Regions from separate parts of the Homo sapiens genome. Here region 1 is linked to region 2. Evidence: fine-mapped expression QTL. A gene starts in region 2. The other region holds a variant in brackets. All regions are shown on one strand. Distances are from middle to middle.

Region 1 (9,949 bases), 28 kb before region 2:
TTGGGAGGCTGAGGCGGGAGGATCACCTGAGGTCAGGAGTTCGAGACCAGCCTCAATATGGAGAAACCCCGTCTCTACTAAAAATACAAAATTAGCCGGGCATGGTGGTGCATGCCTGTAATCCCAGCTACTCGGGAGGCTGAGGCAGGAAAATTGCTTGAACCCAGGAGGCAGAGACTGCAGTCAGCCAAGATCACGCCATTGTACTCCAACCTGGGCAACAAGAGTGAAACTCTGTCTCAAAAAAAAAAAAAAAAAAAAGAAAGAAACTCAGGGAGACAGACAGTAAGTGAAAGGAAAGAATAAAATAACCTCTGCTCACATTTGAAATTATTAAGTTCTTTTCAATAAAATTTCATGCTGTAGTAAATGAACTGGATGTAATTTTTTGGTACAGGAATGAATTCACAAATTTTTCCTTGAAAATAAAAATGTTTTCAACCTAAGGTCATTTATCCTAAAAATTGTTCTTTTTGACTTTGCTTTATTAAAAACTGCAAATATAAAACATCTCAGGTGTGGTTACTCATGCCTGTAATCCTAGCACTATGGGGGGCCTAGATGGGATGATCGCTTAATGCCAGGAGTTCCAGACCGGCCTGGTCAACATACTAAGGCTCCATCTCTATTTTTTTTTTTTTAACGTATATCTAAAAAGGCAATTTTCACATCTCAAGAACGGAAGCACTTCTGAGGCTGGGCACAGTGGCTCATACCTGTAATCCCAGCACTTTGGGAGGCCACAGCAGGCGGATCACATGGGGTCTGGAATTTGAGACCAGCCTGGCCAACATGGTGAAACCTCATCTCTACCAAAAATTCAAAAATTAGTCAGGAGTGGTGGCACACGCCTATAATTCCAGCTACTCAGGAGACTGAGGCACGAGAATCGCTTGAATCTGGTAGGCGGAGGTTGCAGTGAGCCGAAATCACGCCACTGCACTCCAGCCTGGGTGACAGAGCGAGACTGTTAAAAAAAAAAAAGCCGGGCGCGGTGGCTCAAGCATGTAAGTAATCCCAGCACTTTGGGAGGCCGAGGGGGGCAGATCACGAGGTCTGGAGATCGAGACCATCCTGGCTAACACGGTGAAACCCCGTCTCTACTAAAAATACAAAAAATTAGCCGGGCGTGGTGGCGGGCGCCTGTAGTCCCAGCTACTCGGGATGCTGAGGCAGGAGAATGGCGTGAACCCGGGAGGCGGAGCTTGCAGTAAGCGGATATCGCGTCACTGCACTCCAGCCTGGGCGACAGAGCAAGACTCCGTCTCAAAAAAAAAAAAAAAAAGAAAAGAAAAGAAAAAAAAGGCTGGGCGCGGTGGCTCATGCCTGTAATCCCAGCGCTTTGGGAAGCTGAGGCGAGCGGATCACGAGGTCAAGAGATGGAGATCATCCTGGCCAACACGGTGAAACCCGTCTCTACTAAAACTACAAAAATTAGCTGCGCCTGGTGGCGCATGCCTGTAATCCCAGCTACTTGAGAGGCTGTGGCAGGAGAATCGTTTGAACCCAGGAGGCGGAGGTTGCAGTGAGCTGAGATCACACCACTGCACTCCAGCCTGGGCAACAAGAGCGAAACTCCGTCTCAAAAAAAAAATAAAATAAAATAAATTGAAGCATTTCTCATAACCAGAATACCATAGTCACACCTACTAATTTCCTAATATTAGCTGACAGCATGACACTGGAATCTCATAAATTATATAAACAATTTAAAAAATATTTTGTAGAGACACAGTCTGACTATATTGCCCGGCTGGTCTTGAAGTCTTGGCCTCAAGGGATTCTGCTGCCTTGGCCTTCCATTGCATATGGAAACGCAAAGTGGAAATGTTATCCATTTAACATAAAAGACAACATAACCTTAAAAATATGTGTGACATTCCCTATCCATAGCTCTGTCTGCAGCCAGAATGAAGAATGAGTCCTAGATTGCCAAAATAACTTTTAATTCTAAATTGTTGAAACTTACAAACTGCAGCGTTGCTTTTCTTTTTTCTTTTCTTTTCTTTCTTTCTTTCTTTTTTTTTTTTTTTTTTTTTTTTTTTTTTGGAGACAGAATTTCGCTTTTGCCCAGGCTGGAGTGCAATGGCGTGATCACAGCTCACCGCAACCTCCACCTCCAGAGTTCAAGCGATTCTCCTGTCTCAGCCTCCCAAGTAGCGGGGATTACAGGTATGCGCAACCACACCTGGCTAATTTTGTATTTTTAGTAGAGGCGGGGTTTCTCCATGATGGTCAGTGCAGGGAGCCAAAGGCCGCTGGGACACGACAAACTCAGCATTCCGCAGGAGTCTATATGATCAAACAGCAAACTGTTTATCATGAATGCAGGTTGTGGGCAAACTCACACTGCCCTGCCACCAAAAGGTTTGCTGAGGGACATCACTCCCTGGCACCGGGCTCCTTGAAGTTATCTACTGAGAAAATTAGTGCCTATTGTCCAAAGGATGCAGTCTCACAAGCCTGCTGTGAACCAAACAGAACCAAACGGCCAACTGACAATTACCCGACAATCACTCCCTCTTTTCTCACTATCCCTTTGGCCTAATAAATACGGAGGACTGTGTAAAGCTCGGGGCCCTTGTCCACTAGAGGCAAGGTGCTGCCCCCATCCCTTCTTCCAAATATACTCTTTTGTCTCTTGTCTTTTATTCCCACGTTCGCCCCCCTTTGTTCAGTCCCCCTAGGTCCGTGCAGGTTACACAGTGGCACCCCAAACAGCGACAGGATCGGAAGCTCTATAAGTGGCACTCGAACAGGCGGCAGTCCAAACACGGGACTATGAGGACGTGAACGAAGAAGGTCTGCTGGAGTAGAGGAACTGAAATTGACAAGACGCACGGGGACTCCGGGATGAGTCTGCCGATAGCGTATGTAAGGTCAGTGCCCTAAAGAAGTACTGGGGGCAGTGCTTTAAAGAAGTACTGGGAAGGGGAAGTTTTCTGAATCAGGTTAACAAGGGGAAGAATTTGTCTACTGAAGAAAAACATTATGTGCACTTGCTTAAGTTTCTGTTGAGACAGTCTGGAGCTCAGGTTAATTCGCAGGCACTAACTAACCTCCTGCAGAAGCCACAAATGGTTATTCACGCATCACCCATGGTTTCCACAGGCAGGCACTCTTGATGCGGAAAATTGGGACAGAGCAGGAGAAGGATTAAAACAGGCTCATCAAAAAGGTTTTAAAGTTGATTCTTCAGTTTTCTCCACTTGGAGTTTAGTTCATACTGTACTTCTGCCATTAGCTCCTTATTATTCTGCGGGACAGCAGGCTGAGTCTAAAAATCTGAAAGAATCTGTTGTCCCACCCACAGCGCCAACTGAAAATAAAAAACAGGTGAGGGAGGATAAAAATTGGCCTATACCGCCTCCTCCAATCGCAGAAACATCTGTACTGCCTCCTTCAGTAGCAGAAATAGAGACCCCAAAACAAACAACTTTATGCTCTGCTGCCATAGCTGGAGAGCCCTTAGGACCTTGCACTTTTCCTATTTCCGTAAGGCCCGATTCAAATAATCCACAGCAGTTTATTCATGAACACACCCCACTAGAATTTAAGTTGTTGAAGGAATTAAAAACTAGTGTGGTCAATAATGGAGTACATAAGCCCATGGTTCCCGGAAGAAGGAACGCTAGGCTTAGAACTCTGGGAATGAGTGGGGAGAAATCTTGAACAACATCAGGTGCAAAGGCATCAGGTCCCAGTAAAATCTTTAACGTTATGGGCTTTAATTAGAGCAGTCCTGGCTCAGTTTACACACAGAAGAGCCTAAAAAGAGGAAGGAGGAGAAAACGTCACCTGCCTTATCACCTTCTCTTCCCTCAGCCCCAATATCACTGGGCCAAAAATAACAAAGAGGAAACAGAGGTCTTACCTAAGCCTCCTCCTCCAATAGATAGGAAAAAGGACAGAGGATACGCTACAGCTATCAGTCCCTGTCTTGAGCAGGCAGCATTAGAAGGAGAGCTCTTAACCTGCTCAGTAATGCAAAATCGGCAAGGCAAGCAGGTGTATGTCTGTAAAAAGATAAGAAAGGCCGGGCGAGGTGGCTCATGCCTGTAATCCCAGCACTTTGGGAGGCTGAGGCGGGCAGATCACCTGAGGTGGGCAGATCACCTGAGGTCGGGAGTTCGAAACCAGCCTGAGCAACATGGAGAAACCCTGTCTCTACTAAAAATACAAAATTAGCCGGGCGTGGTGGCAAGTGCCTGTAATCCCAGCTACTCGGGAGGCTGAGGCAGGAGAATCGCTTGAACTTGGAAGGCGGAGGTTGCGGTGAGCCGAGATCGCGCCATTGCACTCCAGCCTGGGCAACAAGAGCAAAAACTCCGTCTCAAAAAAAAAGAAAGAAAAAAGGCATTAGAAGCCGAAACCGCGCGACCAAGCAAGCGGTGGGCGGAATAGAAGGTTCAGCAGCAGAAAAGCTGGCAGCGACCAAGCCCACAAGGTCCGCCCAGGCTGGCAGCATGCCCCACCCCCGGCAAAGGAGGGAGGGAGCGGCGCAGACACAGGCAAAACCTGAGCAAGTACAATGCGGCCGCC[G/A]CCAAGGACCTGCACCGCAGCCCTCTGGCTCTGTGAGCAGCCCATAGCAAAAGTTCATGTGTTACGTACGTCCCAGACTATGATTCTCTGCTAAGATTTAAGTAAAATGTAAGAATTTGAAAAACCTCTTTTCTAATAATGGCCACTGTTATCTCTCTCCTACCCCTAAGGTAGCTTTCCAAATTCAATTTAAGTAAAACAGTAACCTCTGAAGGGAAAGAGATTACAGAGGGCCCACGAATTCATTAATGAGTAATTAAAAGCTAGGCATGTAAAACCACACATTACCCTTTAAAGGAGAACTTTAAACCTAATTAAATGATATTTGTCAAATTAGAAGGTAAAAATGTTGTGTCCTTCTCAGAAAGTGAAGAAAAGTTGTAAGTGTAGTGAAAACTTATGCATGAATGACTGTCTTACCCACTGATTACAGATAGTGTGATTTGTACTTGCTAAAAGAGTCCTAAATTGAGTTCCCCAGCCAGTGAGTCACTGTTTTCAAGACTGTTTGCCAGATTAAAGTCCATAAACTTGGTCAGCCCAAAAACTCAATTACAAGATTTAAGCTATTCCGCCCGTGGTTTTAAGCACATGGTTAAAGTATATCATTTAAGTCTCTGCTTCTAGAGACGCGTTCAGATTTTCTTTTTAAACTTATTACTATTTCAGCTAGCAATCTTAATGATTAATGCAGTCCAAATGCTAAGTTATGACCCTCATATCATCAGGATTCGTTTAAGTAAAAGGCAATTCGAAGCGGTATTTCACTCCCCCATACCTAAGGCTTTAACACGGTTTACTGATGGGTCTGGTAAACATGGAAAAGCAGCAGGCTAGTAGAGACCACATAATTCAATCACTCGATCTGAGTTTACTAGCACTCAGAGAGCTAAGGTTACTCTGTTTATTTATTTATTTATTTATTTTTGAGACGGAGGCTCGCTCTGTCGCTCAGTCTGGAGTGCAGTGGTGCGATCTCCACTCACTGCAAGCTCCGCCTCCCGGGTTCACGCCATTCTCCTGCCTCAGCCTCCCGAGTAGCTGGGACTACAGGCACCTGCCACCGCGCCCGGCTAATTTTTTGTATTTTTAGTAGAGACGGGGTTTCGCTGTGTTAGCCAGGATGGTCTGGATCTCCTGACCTCGTGATCCGCTCGCCTCGGCCTCCCAAAGTGCTGGGATTACAGGCGTGGGCCACCGCGCCCGTCCTATCAGGTTACTCTGTTTATTTATTAAAGAACTTTTACAACTTTAAGCTTGCTCTGGACTTTGCAGCCTTATGTTGCAAATATAGCCATCAATTTATGGGGTCGAGACTTACAGCATGGGATAGGAGACTTACAAATGAAAACTTTGATAATCCAGGATTTAAAATGTTGAAGAACATGGGATATCAGAGTGAAAAAGGTTTAGGGAAATTTCTACAATGAAATCCTAACCCGATATCAGTAACTGGAAAAACAGATAGAAAAGGGCTAGGACACAAGGATTTCTGACGGGGGGGTCATTGATATTTGATATTTCTCCTTTGCCCACTGCCTTACCATTAGAATGGCTCAGTGACAAACCTGTGTGGGTGGATCAATGGCCCCTATCACAAAAGAAGCTAGATGAACTTCATCTGTTGGTAAAAGAGCAATTGAACACAGGACATATAGAAAAGTCAGTTAGCAGGCCGGGCGCGGTGGCTCACGCCTGTAATCCCAGCACTTTGGGAGGCCCAAGCGGGAGGATCACGAGGTCAGGAGATCGAGACCATCCTGGCTAACACAGTGAAACCCCGTCTCCACTAAAAATACAAAAAAAATAGCTGGGCATGGTTGCAGGCGCCTGTAGTCCCAGCTACTTGGGAGGCTGAGGCAGGAGAATGGCATGAACCCGGGAGACAGAGCTTTACTCCAGCGTGGGCGACAGAGCGAGACTGTCTCAAAAAAAAAAAGAAAAGTCAGTTAGCCCCTGGAATTCTCCAGTATTTGTGATTCCAAAAAGGTCCCAAAACAATAACGACCTCTGGGGTTTCAGCTCAACATTCAGAGCTAACTGCAGTCATTCAGGTTTTACAGCTCACAGCTTCAGATCCTATCAACATTGTCTGTGATTCAGCTTATGTTGTAAATGTAGCCAGTCGCGTAGAAACTGCTACAGTTAAAAGTACACTAGACCCAGAACTGCTTAATTTATTTCACTTATTCTCAAATGCTGCATGCTACATGCCAAACAGGTGAGACAGCTGGTCATGTATGGTGACATCATCTGTCATCATTTGCTCATATGGGAATACCTAAACAATTAAAAACTAACAATGGACCCACTTATACTGGCCATGCTTTTCAAAATTTCTTACAGCTTTGGGCTATAACCCATAAAATAGAAATTCCTTATAATCCTAGAGGACAAGGCATTATAGAGCAGGCACATCAAACATTACAACACATGTTGAAAAAACAAAAAGGGGGTATAGGAGGCCACTTACCACCTCAATCAGAACTTTTTATTATTTTTATTTACTTTAAATTTTTTTGGCTCCTGGTCCGGATGGTAAGACTCCAGCAGAAAGACATTGACAAGTGTTAGAGGAAAAGAGGAAAGTTTATCTGAAAGTGTTATGGAAATCCCTGGAAGAAGGACAATGGAAAAGTCCGGTGGATTTACTGACATGGGGAAGAGAGCATGCTTGTGTTTCTACAGGAGATGGGCACACCGTTTGGGTGCCCTCAAGGTGTGTGCGACCATGAACGGGAGACGGGAGGAACCCAGGGTGGCCAACCATGGGCCCGGTCCCTCCAGTACGAGCCATGAGCCAGCTGAGCCTGGGTGCAAAGAGAGAGAGAAGGCCTAACAGAGTCACAACACAGTTCTAATGCTATGTTTTCTGTAAAATCAGATGGACCGCCAATCGGACAATGAGAGCTGCTCAGCCTGGCCTTACATTCTTTCAATTAATACATAAACAAAAAGGGGGATATGCAGGGAGCCGAAGGCCCGTGGGACGTGACCAACTCAGCATTCCGCAGGAGTCTATATGGGATCAAACAGCAAACTGTTTATCATGAATGCAGGATGTGGGCAAACTCACTGCCCTGCCACCAAAAGGTTTGCTGAGGGACATCACTCCCTGGCACTGGGCTCCTTGAAGTTATCTACTGAGAAAATTAGTGCCTATTGTCCAAAGGATGCAGTCTCACAAGCCTGGTGTGAACCAAATGGCCAACTGACAATTACCCAACAATCACCCCCCGCTTTTCTCGCTCTTTTGTCTAATAAATACAGAGGGCTGTGTAAAGCTCGGGGCCCTTGTCCACTAGAGGCAAGGTGCCCCCCAACCCCTTCTTCCAAATATACTCTTTTGTCTCTTGTCTTTTATTCCTGTGTTTGCTCCCGTTTGTTCAGTCCAATAGGTCCAAGGCGGGTCAGGCTGGTCTCGGACTCCTGACCTCAGGTGATCTGCCCACCTCAGCCTCCCAAAGTGCTGGGATTAGAGGCGTGAGCCACTGCGCCCAGCCGGCATTGCTTTTCTAATCAGATGAAGAACAGTGTATGCTGTCAACAGAGCATCAGGACTCAAACAGAAAGCCACATCACTGCCTTCCAAAAGTGGTGGCCCTCTGGTTTATGAACACTCTTTGGGCCTGTGCTACAATGTCCTCTCTGGGGTGTTTGTGAAGCATCAAGATACTCCCACAGTCAAGGCCAATAATCAGGCTCAGCTGTGTCCTGTTCATCTCCCTCACCCTGTGCTTCCAGTGTCCCCTACCTTCACTGGTCATCCCCACACAGCACCTGCATCCCAACACAGCACCTGCATCCCGGGCAAAATCACATTTGGAGTCGTGTTGATGGTGGGGTTTCTACTCTGTGGCCCACACTATCACTGTGGGTGTTGCCTTCAAGGGAGAAGGACTCAGTGGTTGGATTCAGTAGCACCTAACTCTGTATTGCCCTCTCTAATCCAAATGACTGTAGAATCTGACAGGCAATGACTCCACCCTTCACTCATGTGAATACATTATCTGGGGCTGAATATGTCATCTCCACATACAGTCATGGTTTGGTTGCTGATTGCTACTCTATCCTGTGATACCTGGGCTTTTGACACTGAGAAGTTTCAACAGGGATTTTCTCAACAAGAGCTTGCTGGACACCTTCAACGAAGTGATTGGATTGTTCCGTGGAAGTGTACAGACAAAAAGCTGACTTTTGCATGTTGCTTTTTACTCTGTAGTGCTGGCATAAGAGGCCTATTGATAAATTAGAAGCAAAAGCATATATGCCAGGAACAGTGGTTCATACCTGTAATCCATTCCAGCACTTTAGGAGGCCGATGCGGCCAGATCACCTGAAGTCAGGAGTTTGAGATCAGCCTGGCCAACATGGTGAAACCCTGTCTGTACTAAAAATACGAAACAAAAATTAGCCGGGTGTGATGGTGGGCACCTGTAATCCCAACTACTCAGGAGGCTGAGGCAGGACAATCACTTGAACCGGGAAGCAGAGGTTGCAGTGAGTTGAGATTGCACCACTGCACTCCAGCCTGGGTGATAAGAGTGAAACTCTTGTCTAAAAAAACAAAAACACAAAAACAAAAACAAAAGCATATTATTGGAGCAAGAAAGGCTTGGTTGGAATATTGATGCTGACTTTGTTCCCTTCCTAGGCTTGCATTCAGAAAATGTGCATAAATATATTAGTCTCATTAGACTCGTAAAGGAGCTTTTTAAAAGTATTATACAGCTTGCTAAGAAGTAAATTTACATATTTTAACTGAGGTACATAATGGAAAACAGTGTCCAGTACATCACAGGAAATACTTCAGTGTTCAGAGAATAAGTAAGGCAAAAACAGGTCCACAAGTCCAGGAGCCAGCCTCCGCTCACTGCAAGGCCAAGTCTTACGCTGTTGGAGAGAAACATGTCAGACACCAGCAATGTGAGACCATGCTCCTAGGTGGCTATGATGAATCAAGACAAAAAAAGGGCATTCTGTAACCATGTCTTTAAAACTGGTGAAAGACAGCATGTTCCAAATCATAAACATGACCCAAATTCCCCTCTTCTCACTAATATGACTGAGTGGTATTTCTCATGAATTACGTTTACCTCCACTCCATTCCTTTTCCCTTCTGGATAAGAACAGTTATGATTACCAAGTTTAGAATTAAGTTTACCTCATCACTGCATCAAATACAGAGAATCATCTTGCTTCCCTGAACATAAATCAATCAACCTGGCCAGGTGCGGTGGCTCATGCCTGTAATCCCAGCACTTTGGGAGGCCGAGGCAGGTGGATCACGAGGTCAGGAGTTTGAGACCAGCCCGACCAACATGGTGAAACCCCGTTCACTACTAAAAGTACAAAAATTAGCCGAGTGTGGTGGTGTGCACCTGAAATCCCAGCTACTCTGGAGGCT
Region 2 (9,949 bases):
AGCCACCACGCCCAGCCTGAGATGCTTGAAGATTTTATACTTGGTGCCTTCTCCCCTTTCGATTATCCTTTAGAATAGTCATTCCTGTCTGGTGTGGTGGTGCTCCCCGCCCCACCCCCATAATCCTGGAATTTGGGGAGGCTACGGTGGGAGGATTGCTCGAGGCCAGGAGTTAGAGACCAGTCTGGGCAACATAACAACGTCCTGTCTCTCTTAAAAAAACTTTTTTAAAAATATAAGCCAGGCATCATGGCACATGCCTTTAGTCCTAGGTACTTGGGAGGCTGATGTGAGAGAATTCCTTGAGCCCAGGAGATCAAGGCTACAGTGAGCTATGATCGCACCACTGCACTCCAGCCTAGGAGACAGAGTGAGACCCTGTCACACACAAAAAAAATAAATAAATAAAAATAAAATAAATCACTCCTTACCTAAATCCAGATTTGTTTCATTAGAAACGTCTACAAACAGACCCAAGATAATAGCAAGTACATTCTCAGAAAGGCATCACCTCAACCACCTCTGCCTATGAATCCCCAGCTTTCCAGGGCTCTGAGCTTCTCTCACTATAAAGGGCTCCACCCAAAGTCAGTTGTGAGCAGCTGGGACACTGCAGGGGAGGCTCCTCAGCAAGAACCACTGGGCCTGTAATGTCCTCTCTTTGAAGGCTCAAGATTGGTCTTAGTTTCAAGTCACTAGTCTGCTGTCTCTGTTTCCCAGTCAAGGTTATGCATTTAATTTTCAATGAGAAAATACCCAGGGTTTGAAGATTCCAGTAAAATCACTCAAATTCACTGTTTATAGCAAGGAAGGAAATTGTAAGGCACTTATATTTCATACCTTAACAGGAAAAGTAAAAGTATCCATCCTCTTCAGACAATAAACATGTTATTTATTCTTTCTATGGTAACAAATCATGTACTAAATCATATTGGAACACTTCTAGGAGTTACCAAGTCCTGTCCTACTAGGACTTCGCATTAAACTCTGATGTCTAGATAACAGGAAGAGAACAGTTATCCACTGTCACAAGTTTGCCACCCTGCAAAGCAGAGGAATTGATGTTTTGGTGAATCTCTGTAATTCACCAATTTATTTGCTACACTTACTTGTGGAAATGTATTCATTTTCTGCAGTCATGATAGAAGAGAGTTTTCTCTCTCTCTTTTCCTTAGTATTCCCAACACTAAGCCCTGGAATTCCATTTTAAATCACCACACCCCACCCCCACAAAAAAAAACAACATACTTGAGAAACTTACTACACTTGCTTTGGGAAAGAAAAAAATAATAATTTTTTTTTTGAGATGGAGTCTTGCTCTGTTGCCCAGGCTGCAGTGCAGTGGCGCAATCATGGATCACTGCAAGCTCCGCCTCCCAGGTTCATGCCATTCTCCTGCCTCAGCCTCCCAAGTAGCTGGCACTACAGGCACCCGCCACCATGCCCAGCTAATTTTTTGTGTTTTTAGTAGAGACAGGGTTTCACTGTGTTAGCCAGGATGGTCTCGATCTCCTGACCTCGTGATCTGCCTGCCTCAGCCTCCCAAAGTGCTGGGATTACATGCGTGAGCCATCGCGCCCAGCCATAAGTAATAATTTTTAACAAACATAAGACTAGATATTTAATGTTTTCTGAAATCCACTTCCTTCTTGCCTCTTTGCAAAACTGTCTTATATTTCAAGGTCTACTGATGAAATACATTTATAGTTACTTAAAAAAGAAAAAAACTGAAACTGCAATAAGTGAACAAATCTTTTGCAGGGGACAAACCCAGGAAGGGGCTGCGCTAACCTGGAACAGAGGTACGTCTGACTCAAGTTTCACATCTTTTTTTTTGAGACAGAGTCTCGCTCTGTCACCCAGGCTGGGGTGCAGTGGTGTGATCTCGGTTCACTGCAACCTTTGCCTCCCACGTTAAAGCGATTCTCATGCCTCAGCCTCCCCAGTAGCTGAGATTAGAGGCACCTGCCACCACACCCAGCTAATTTTTGTATTTTTTAGTAGAGACAGGGTTTCGCCATGTTGGCCGGGCTGGTCTCGAACTCATGGCCTCAAGTGATCCGCCCACCTCAGCTTCCCAAAGTGCTGGGATTACAGGTGTGAGCCACCGCGCCCGGCCTAAGTCAGGTCATTCTATCACCTGGGATATCGTCCACCCCCTAACCTGCTCACTGAAGGGCTCAGTGACCACCCTTCCAAGAGACACTGCATTTTGCCTCCATCTGCCTGAAGTACATTTTGCTTTTCAAGTTCTTGCATCACCTCAGTGGGATGGGTTTTCCTGTCCTTGGGATAAGTTTTCTCACTTCACCAGTCTAAAAGAATCCAGAGGGCAAGAATCATATCTGTTTTTCCCCTCAATACCATCATCCATTTGGCTGGACACCAATGTGTCCCCCAAGGAATGGGATCTGGAATTAGGGGAAGAAAAGCTGAGTGTCCCAGGGGTGAGCTTTGAGAGGGAGGGGATATCAAGAGATTCCTCCGACCCCAGGACACCCAGCTCCTCCACTAAGAGGCCCCACCCCGTACTTCAGGCTGTCCAGTGGGAGCAGGCTGATACCAGACCCTTCAACAGATCTGGCTGCTGTGGGCATCCTGTGTCAGCCCAAACAGCCCTGAAGCCCAGGACCAGGAAAGGAGGATGCTCTGAAGACATATCACAGTTTAAAGTTTCCAAAGGGGAACCCCAACCCAAAGACACTGTTTTTTGTTTTTTTTATTTTAGGGTCCGGGTCTCACTATGTTGCTCAGGCTGGTCTCAAACTCCTGGCCTCAGGTGATCCTCCCGCCTTGGCCTCCCAAAGTGTTGGGATTACAGACATGAGCCATGGCACCAGGCCAACCAAAAGACATTCTGAGAACATCCCTGTGCCTAGGAGAGAGAAAAGGAGAAGAGGCACAAAGGTTTTTTCACAGCAGGGTCTCATACATGTATTCTCTGCTTTCCTCTCCTGTGAAATGTTCAGAAACAGAAAGCAAATATTTTTAAAAGACCAATCGATTGCTCCTTGAAAAAATAATACAAATTAATTAGTTTGAAATGTGCAATAAAGGACAAAGAGTTGATAATGTCGTGACTGGAGTTACCTTTTGGGAATATGGTGAAAGAAGTGGTATCAAGAATTATTTGCAAGCGCCAGAGGAGTCAGGCTAGGGGAACAAGGTCAAGGATTTGGGACCCTGTCCCCCTGGGGAGTGTTAAAATAATTAATTTGGAGACAATTAGAGGGCTGTGGCTATGGTGTCCTGGTTTCCTACCCAAGGAAACAGAAATCTAAGTCGAATGAAATTCTTTTATTTGATTTTATATTTTAAAAATTTGTAGTAGTTTTTTGGTCTCAGTCTGAATATGTTCATTTAAAAAAAATTAACAGAGATGGGGTCTCGCTATATTGCGAGGCTGATCTTCAACTCCTGGGCCCAAGCGATCCTCCTGTCTTGGCCTCCAAAAGCGCTGCGATTACAGGCGTGAGCCACCGCGCTCCAGCCTCAAATGAAATTCTTATAAATTACCAGTTTATAAGGAAATAAAATTTAGGGTTAATAAACCACAACCACCAATCCACCTCTGACTACATAAGCAGAAAATGTCCACCTAGATAGAGCAAATAAGGCGACTGCATAACTGTCACCAACCAAGTACTGAATTTGGTTCGCTTCCTCCTGCACCTTACAGCCTTTCCTTCCATTCCCTCCAACGGATCCCCAAGCCACAAACCACGACCGGGAGCTTCTCCATCGATGAGCCGCTGTTTGCTCAAATAAACTCTAAATTTTTAACGGGAGAAAGGCGGGACTGTGGGGGGCGGCCACAGACCGCAGCTCCTGCAACACGAACCACATCCGAGGAGGGATACCCCCATGACCCTCCCGCGGCCCCCGCACCATGTGGGGAGACGCGGGGCTGCGGGGCCGCAGGCGTCGCGCAGGGACGGGACAGGACGACCGGGGTCCCAGCTCCTGGCCCAGCCCCACCTTGCGGCCGAGGGAACTCGGGTCCCAGACCCCGGAGTCGCCGCAGGGAGGCCTAGGTCCCTCCACAGCCGGTTCCGGCCGGTTCCAACCAGCCCCTCCCCCAGGTCTGGGGACGCCTGACCCCTCACACGCACCATTTCTCGGCTTCCAGGTGTCCCGGCGTCCTCCCTACGACTCCCGCGACCTGTACAGGTCACGGCGCGACAGAGGCTGCGGCGGAGACACCTTGGGCCTCTCGGAGAAACGGAGACGCGAGCCCGGGTGGGGACGGTCGCCAGAAACAAAGGCTCCGTAGGGAGGCGCAGGCCCTGCCCTCCTCTCCCGGGCCCATCTGAATGGACAGTTGGCAGGGCCCCGCCCCAGCGCCCCTGATTGGATAGGGTGACATACCCCGCCCCCTAAGGCCTGAGTGACGTAGGAAGCCATGGAAACGTGGCTGTGCGTAGCAGTGTTGACTGGTTCTAGCCACTGCGCCTCTCAGGCCGAGTTTCCTCCCTGCACCCAGCCCGAGGGATATTTGAGGGTTTGTTTTGGTTTTTTTTTTTTTTTTTTTTTGAGACGGAGTTTCGCTTTTGTCGCCCAGGCTGGAGTGCAGTGGCGCGATCTCAGCTCACTGCAATCTCTGCCTCCCGGGTTCAAGCGATTCTCGTGCCTCAGCCTCCCGAGTAGCTGAATTACAGGCACCCGCCACCACGCCTGGCTAATTTTTGTATTTTTCGTAGAGACGGGGTTTCGCCATGTTACCGAGGCTGGTCTCTAACTCCTGACCTCAAGTGATACGCCCACCTCAGCCTCCCAAAGTGCTGGGATTACAGGCGTGAGCCACCACGCGTGGCCTTGTTTTGGTTTCCTTCCTTCCTTCCTTCCTTCCTTCCTTCCTTCCTTCCTTCCTTCCATCCTCCCTCCCTCCCTCCTTTCTTTTTTTTCTTTCAGGGTCTTGCTCTGTCACCCAGGCTGGACTGCAGTGGCATGATCTCGGCTCACTCCAGCCCCAATCTCCCGGGCTCAAACGATCCTCCTGCCTCAGCCTCCCTAGTAGCTGGGACCAAAGTCACGCCCCACCACACTCTGCTAATTTTATTTTGTTGTTGGTGCTGTGTGTGTGACGGGGGTGGGGTGGGTTAGATGGGGTCTCACTATGTTGACCAGGCTGGTCGTGAATTCCTGGGCTCAAGTGATCCTCCTGCCTAGGCCTCCCCAGGTGCTGGGATTACAAATGTGAGCCACCGTGCCCGGCCAATATTTGCATTTAATGCAGAGCTTGCTTCTAGCTTGCCAGAGTAGGCACTGTCTTCTTCTGGCACTCCATGAGCTCTTCCTTCTAATTCCTTCCGGACACAAGGTCACCAGTATGTGCAGGGAACTCCACACTCACTGTGACATGGAGCAATCGCCTTGCCTCAGAACGGGAGGGAGCCCAGGCTAGGCCAGGGAGGACAGGAAGAGGAGGAAGGGCCTGATGTTCCGGGAAACGGGCATTTGGGATGAGGCGTGCCAAGGCTTCCTCCCATACCCTCCGGTCCCTGAAAAAACATCTATACGTGGAAAAAAAAGTAGAAATAACTGAGGTGAGAGGAAGGATGCTCTCTGATGAAGTGATGTGGGATGAGACCCAAAGTAATGTATTAGTATTAAAAGGCAGGTTGGGCTGGGTGCGATGGAGCACGCCTGTAATCTAGCACTTTGGGAGGCCGAGGCAGGCGGATCACCTGAGGTCGGGAGTTCGGAACATGGAGAAACCCCATCTCTACTAAAAATACAAAATTAGGCCAGGCGCCGTGGCTCATGCCTGTAATCCCAGCACTTTGGGAGGCCGAGGCGGGCAGATCACGAGGTCTGGAGATCGAGACCATCCTGGCTAACACGGTGAAACCCCATCTCTACTAAAAATACAAAAAATTAGCCGGGCGTGGCAGTGGGCGCCTGTAGTCCCAGCTACTCGGGAGGCTGAGGCAGGAGAATGGCGTGAACCTGGGAGGCGGAACTTGTAGTGAGCCGAGATGGCGCCACTGCGCTCCAGACTGGGAGAGAGAGCGAGATTCCGTCTCAAAAATAAATAAATAAATAAAATAAAATAAATAAATAAATAAAAATACAAAATTAGCCGGGCCTGGTGGCACATGCCTGTAATCCCAGCTACTCGGGAGGCTGAGGCAGGAGAATCGCTTGAATCGGGGAGGTGGAGGTTGCGGTGAGCCAAGATCACACCATTGCACTTTAGCCTGGTCAACAAGAGAGAAACTGTCTCAAAAAAAAAGGCAGGTTAAGCTGGGCACAGTGGCTCATGCCTGTAATCCCAGCACTTTGGGAGGCTGAGGCAGGAGGATAACGAGGTCAGGAGTTTGAGACCAGCCTGGCCAATATAGTGAAACCCCGTCTCTACTAAAAATACAAAAAATTATTGAACCTGGGAGGTGGAGGTTGCAGTGAGCTGAGATCGTGCCACTGCACATCAGCCTGGGCGACAGAGCAAGACTTTGCCTGAAAAAAAAAAAAAAGGCAGGTTGGAGGATTCAGGGAAGATGGCAGAATAAAAATCATAAAGAATCTATGGCCAGGCATGGTGGCTCATGCCTGTAATCCCAGCAGTTTAGGAGGTCAAGGCAGGAGGATCAGTTGAGCCCGGGAGTTTGAAACCAGCCTGGGCAACATAGTGAGACCAACCCCTAACCCCATTTAAAAAATATGAAAATTAGCCAGGGGCTGAGCACAGTGGCTCATGCCTCCAATCCTAGCACTTTGGGAGGCCAAGACGGGAGGATTGCTTGAGCCTAGCAGTTTGAAACCAGTCTGGGCCACATAGTAAACCCTCCCACCCCATCTCTACAAAAAAATACAAAAATTGGCCGGGTGCAGTGACTCATGCCTGTAATCCCAGCACTTTGGGAGGCCGAGGCAGGCGGATCAGGAGGTCAGGAGATTGAGACCATCCTGGCTAACACGGTGAAGCCCCGTCTCTACTAAAACTACAAAAAATTAGCCAGGCGTGGTGGGGGATATAAAGAGCTGATGCCTTTTATTTTTTTCCCTTTGTCAACCTAAAATAATCGAAAGGCTCAAGATCCAGTTAAAATAGTTTATTCAAGGCCAGGCACAGTGGCTCATATCTATAATCCCAGCATTTTGGGAGGTCAAGGCTGGAGGACGGCTTGAGCACAGGAGTTTGAGACCCGCCTGGACCATATAGTGAGACCCTGTCTCTCAAAAAAATATATTGTTTTTAATAAGCTGGGCATGATAGGGTGCACCTGTAGTCCCAGCTACTCGGGGGGCTAGGACGGGAGGATCACTTGATCTCAGGAAATCGAGGTTGCAGTAAGCTATGATGGCACCACTGCACTCCAGCCTAGATGACAGAGACCTTGTCTCAAAAAAAAAAAAAAAAAAGAGTTTATTCAAACACAGAGTACAAGGGTGGCCATCAGGGACATGCTGACACCGAAGAATAGTGATCAATGATCCCAGTGTGGGGAAAAGTGAAAATTGTCTATATAGGCAAAAACAGAGGTGCTGAACAGAAATACATTTCCATACAGATGTTAATATACAGACATAAGATTTGAGGCTGGGTGCCGTGGATCACACCTGTAATCCCAACACTTTGGAAGACCTAGGTAGGTGGATCACCTGACGTCAGGGGTTCAAGACCAACCTGGCCAACATAGTGAAAATCTGTCTCTATTAAAAATACAAAAAGTAGCTGGGCATAGTGACACATGCCTGTAATCCCAGCTACTCAGGAGGCTGAGGCACGAGAATGGCTTGAATCCAGGAAGTAGATGTTGCAGTGAGCCAAGATCATGCCACTGCACTCCAGCCTGGGTGACAGAGCAAGACTCTGTCTCAAAATAAAAAAAAAAATTAAAATAAAAAAAAAAACAGATGTGATTGACTACTGTTGATTACACTCTATGGGGGTTGCTTAACATTCTATTGTAAAGCGGTAACAGTCGCAAGGGTATACATATCCTACATCATTTAGTATAGGTTTGAATGAAGAACAAGGAGTCTGATGGCTACAGTCTCAAAACAAAGGTAAGGAAGCATCAGTCATGCATCAGAGAAGCTGTATTATAAGACTCAGTTTCTAGGACTTAAGTGCTTAATTTTCCCCTTCGCATAATGAATTTGGAAGGTATTGATTTTTTTCTTTTTTTTTTTTTTTTTTAAGACAAGGTCTTGCTCTGTCACCCAGGATAGCGTGCAGTGGTGCTATTATAGCTCACTGCAGCATCGATCTCCTGGGATCAAGCAATCCCCCCACCTCAGCCTCCCGAGTAACTGGGACCACAGGCAAGTGCCACCATACGCGGATAATATTTTTTTAGGTTTAGTAGAGACAATGTCTCGCTATGTTGCCCAGGCTGGTCTAGGACTCCTGAACTCAAGCGATTTTCGCACCTCAGCCCCTCAAAGTGCTGGGATTATAGGCAAGAGCTACCTCGCTCAGCCGAAATTTTATTTTCTTTTTGCACTTTTGTTATTTTATTTTTCTCTTGGGACCCAGACATTGACAATTAGGTCATTCAAAGGCAGCCACAGAGGAAATTACAGTTACCACAGAGGCCCAGAAAAAAAGAATTAAGAAAAGACCGGCCAGGCACGGTGCCTCATGCTTATAATCCCAGCACTTTGGGAGGCCGAGGTGTGTGGATCATTTGAGGTCAGGAGTTCAAGACCAGCCTGGCCAATATGGTGAAACCCCATCTCTACTAAAAATACTAAAATTAGCCGCATGTGGTGGAGCATGCCTGTAATCCCAGCTACTCAGGAGGCTGAGGCAGGAGAATTGCTTGATCCTGGGAGACGGAGGTTGCAGTGAGCTGAGATCGCACCACTGCACTCCAGCCTGGGTGACAGAGCGAGACTCTGTCTCAAAAAGAAAAAAAGAAAGCCGGGGATGGTGGCTCATGCCTGTAATCCCAGCACTTTGGGAGGCCGAGGCAGGCAGGTCACCTGAGGTTGGGAGTTCCGGACCAGCCTGACCAACATGGAGAAACCCTGTCTCTACTAAAAATACAAAATTAGCTGTGCATGGTGGTACATGCCTGTAATCCCAGCTACTTGGGAGGCTGAGGCAGGAGAATCGCTCGAACTCGGGAGGTGGAGGTTGCAGTGAGCTGAGATCACGCCACTGCACTCCAGCCTGGGCAACAAGAGCGAGATGCTTTCTCAAGAAAAGTAATAAAAATAATTATATTTCTATGATATTGGGCACTCAATATATAAAGATGTGATTTGTGACATTAACAACATAAAAGAGCCGGGGGCGGTGGCTCACGCCAGTAATCCTAGCACTTTGGGAGTCCAGGCAAGAGGATCGCTTGAGCTCAGGAGTTCAAGACCAGCCTGGGCAACATAGTGAGACCTTATCTCTATGGAAAAATTAACAAATTAGCCAGTCATGGTGGTGGGCACCTATGGTCCTAACTACTTGGGAGGCTGAGGTGGAAGGATTGTTTGAGCCCGGAAGGTCCAGGCTACAGTAAGCCGTGATCACGCCACTGCACTCCAGATTAGGTCACAGAGTGAGATCCTACCTCAAATAAATAAGTAAATAAAAATTTTAAAAAATAACATAAAAGAAGAGGAAACTATAAAAATAGAGTATCTGGGCCAGGCGTGGTGGCTCACGCCTGTAATTCCAGCACTTTGGGAGGCCGAGGTAGGCGGATTGCCTGAGGTCGGGAGTTTGAGACCAGCCTGACCAACATGGAGAAACCCTGTCTCTACTAAAAATACAAAATTAGCCAGGCGTAATGGCGCACACCTGTAATCCCAGCTACTCAGGAGGCTGAGGCAGGAGAATCGCTTGAACCCAGGAGGCAGAGGTTGCGGTGAGCCGAGATCACACCACTGCACTCCAGCCTGAGCAACAAGAGCGAAACTCCGTCTCAAAAAAAAAAAAAAAAAAAAAGAAAAGAAAAAAGGAAATAGAGTATGTTTATACCATAACCAGGCATAATGGCAC

The links. PIP is the estimated chance that this variant, and not a neighbour inherited with it, causes the effect.
Region 1: its variant is the best candidate, but not a certain one, in a credible set for the expression of ZNF627 in whole blood (INTERVAL, PIP 0.65).

The regions. Positions count from the first base shown.
Region 1 is chr19:11,619,337-11,629,285 of GRCh38, reverse strand. It overlaps the pseudogene VN2R12P. Among named protein-coding and RNA genes, the nearest start is that of ZNF627, 27 kb to the right of the region's middle. RefSeq lists an enhancer at 5,148-5,648. The variant G/A (reference allele first, on the strand shown) is at 4,543.
Region 2 is chr19:11,591,794-11,601,742 of GRCh38, reverse strand. It overlaps ZNF627 (zinc finger protein 627), which reads right to left and starts at 4,260. Exons shown (of 4, transcript NM_145295.4): 1 at 4,113-4,260. The coding sequence starts at 4,115. RefSeq lists silencers at 1,820-1,899, 3,866-4,005, 4,346-4,475 and enhancers at 4,156-4,235, 3,323-4,321.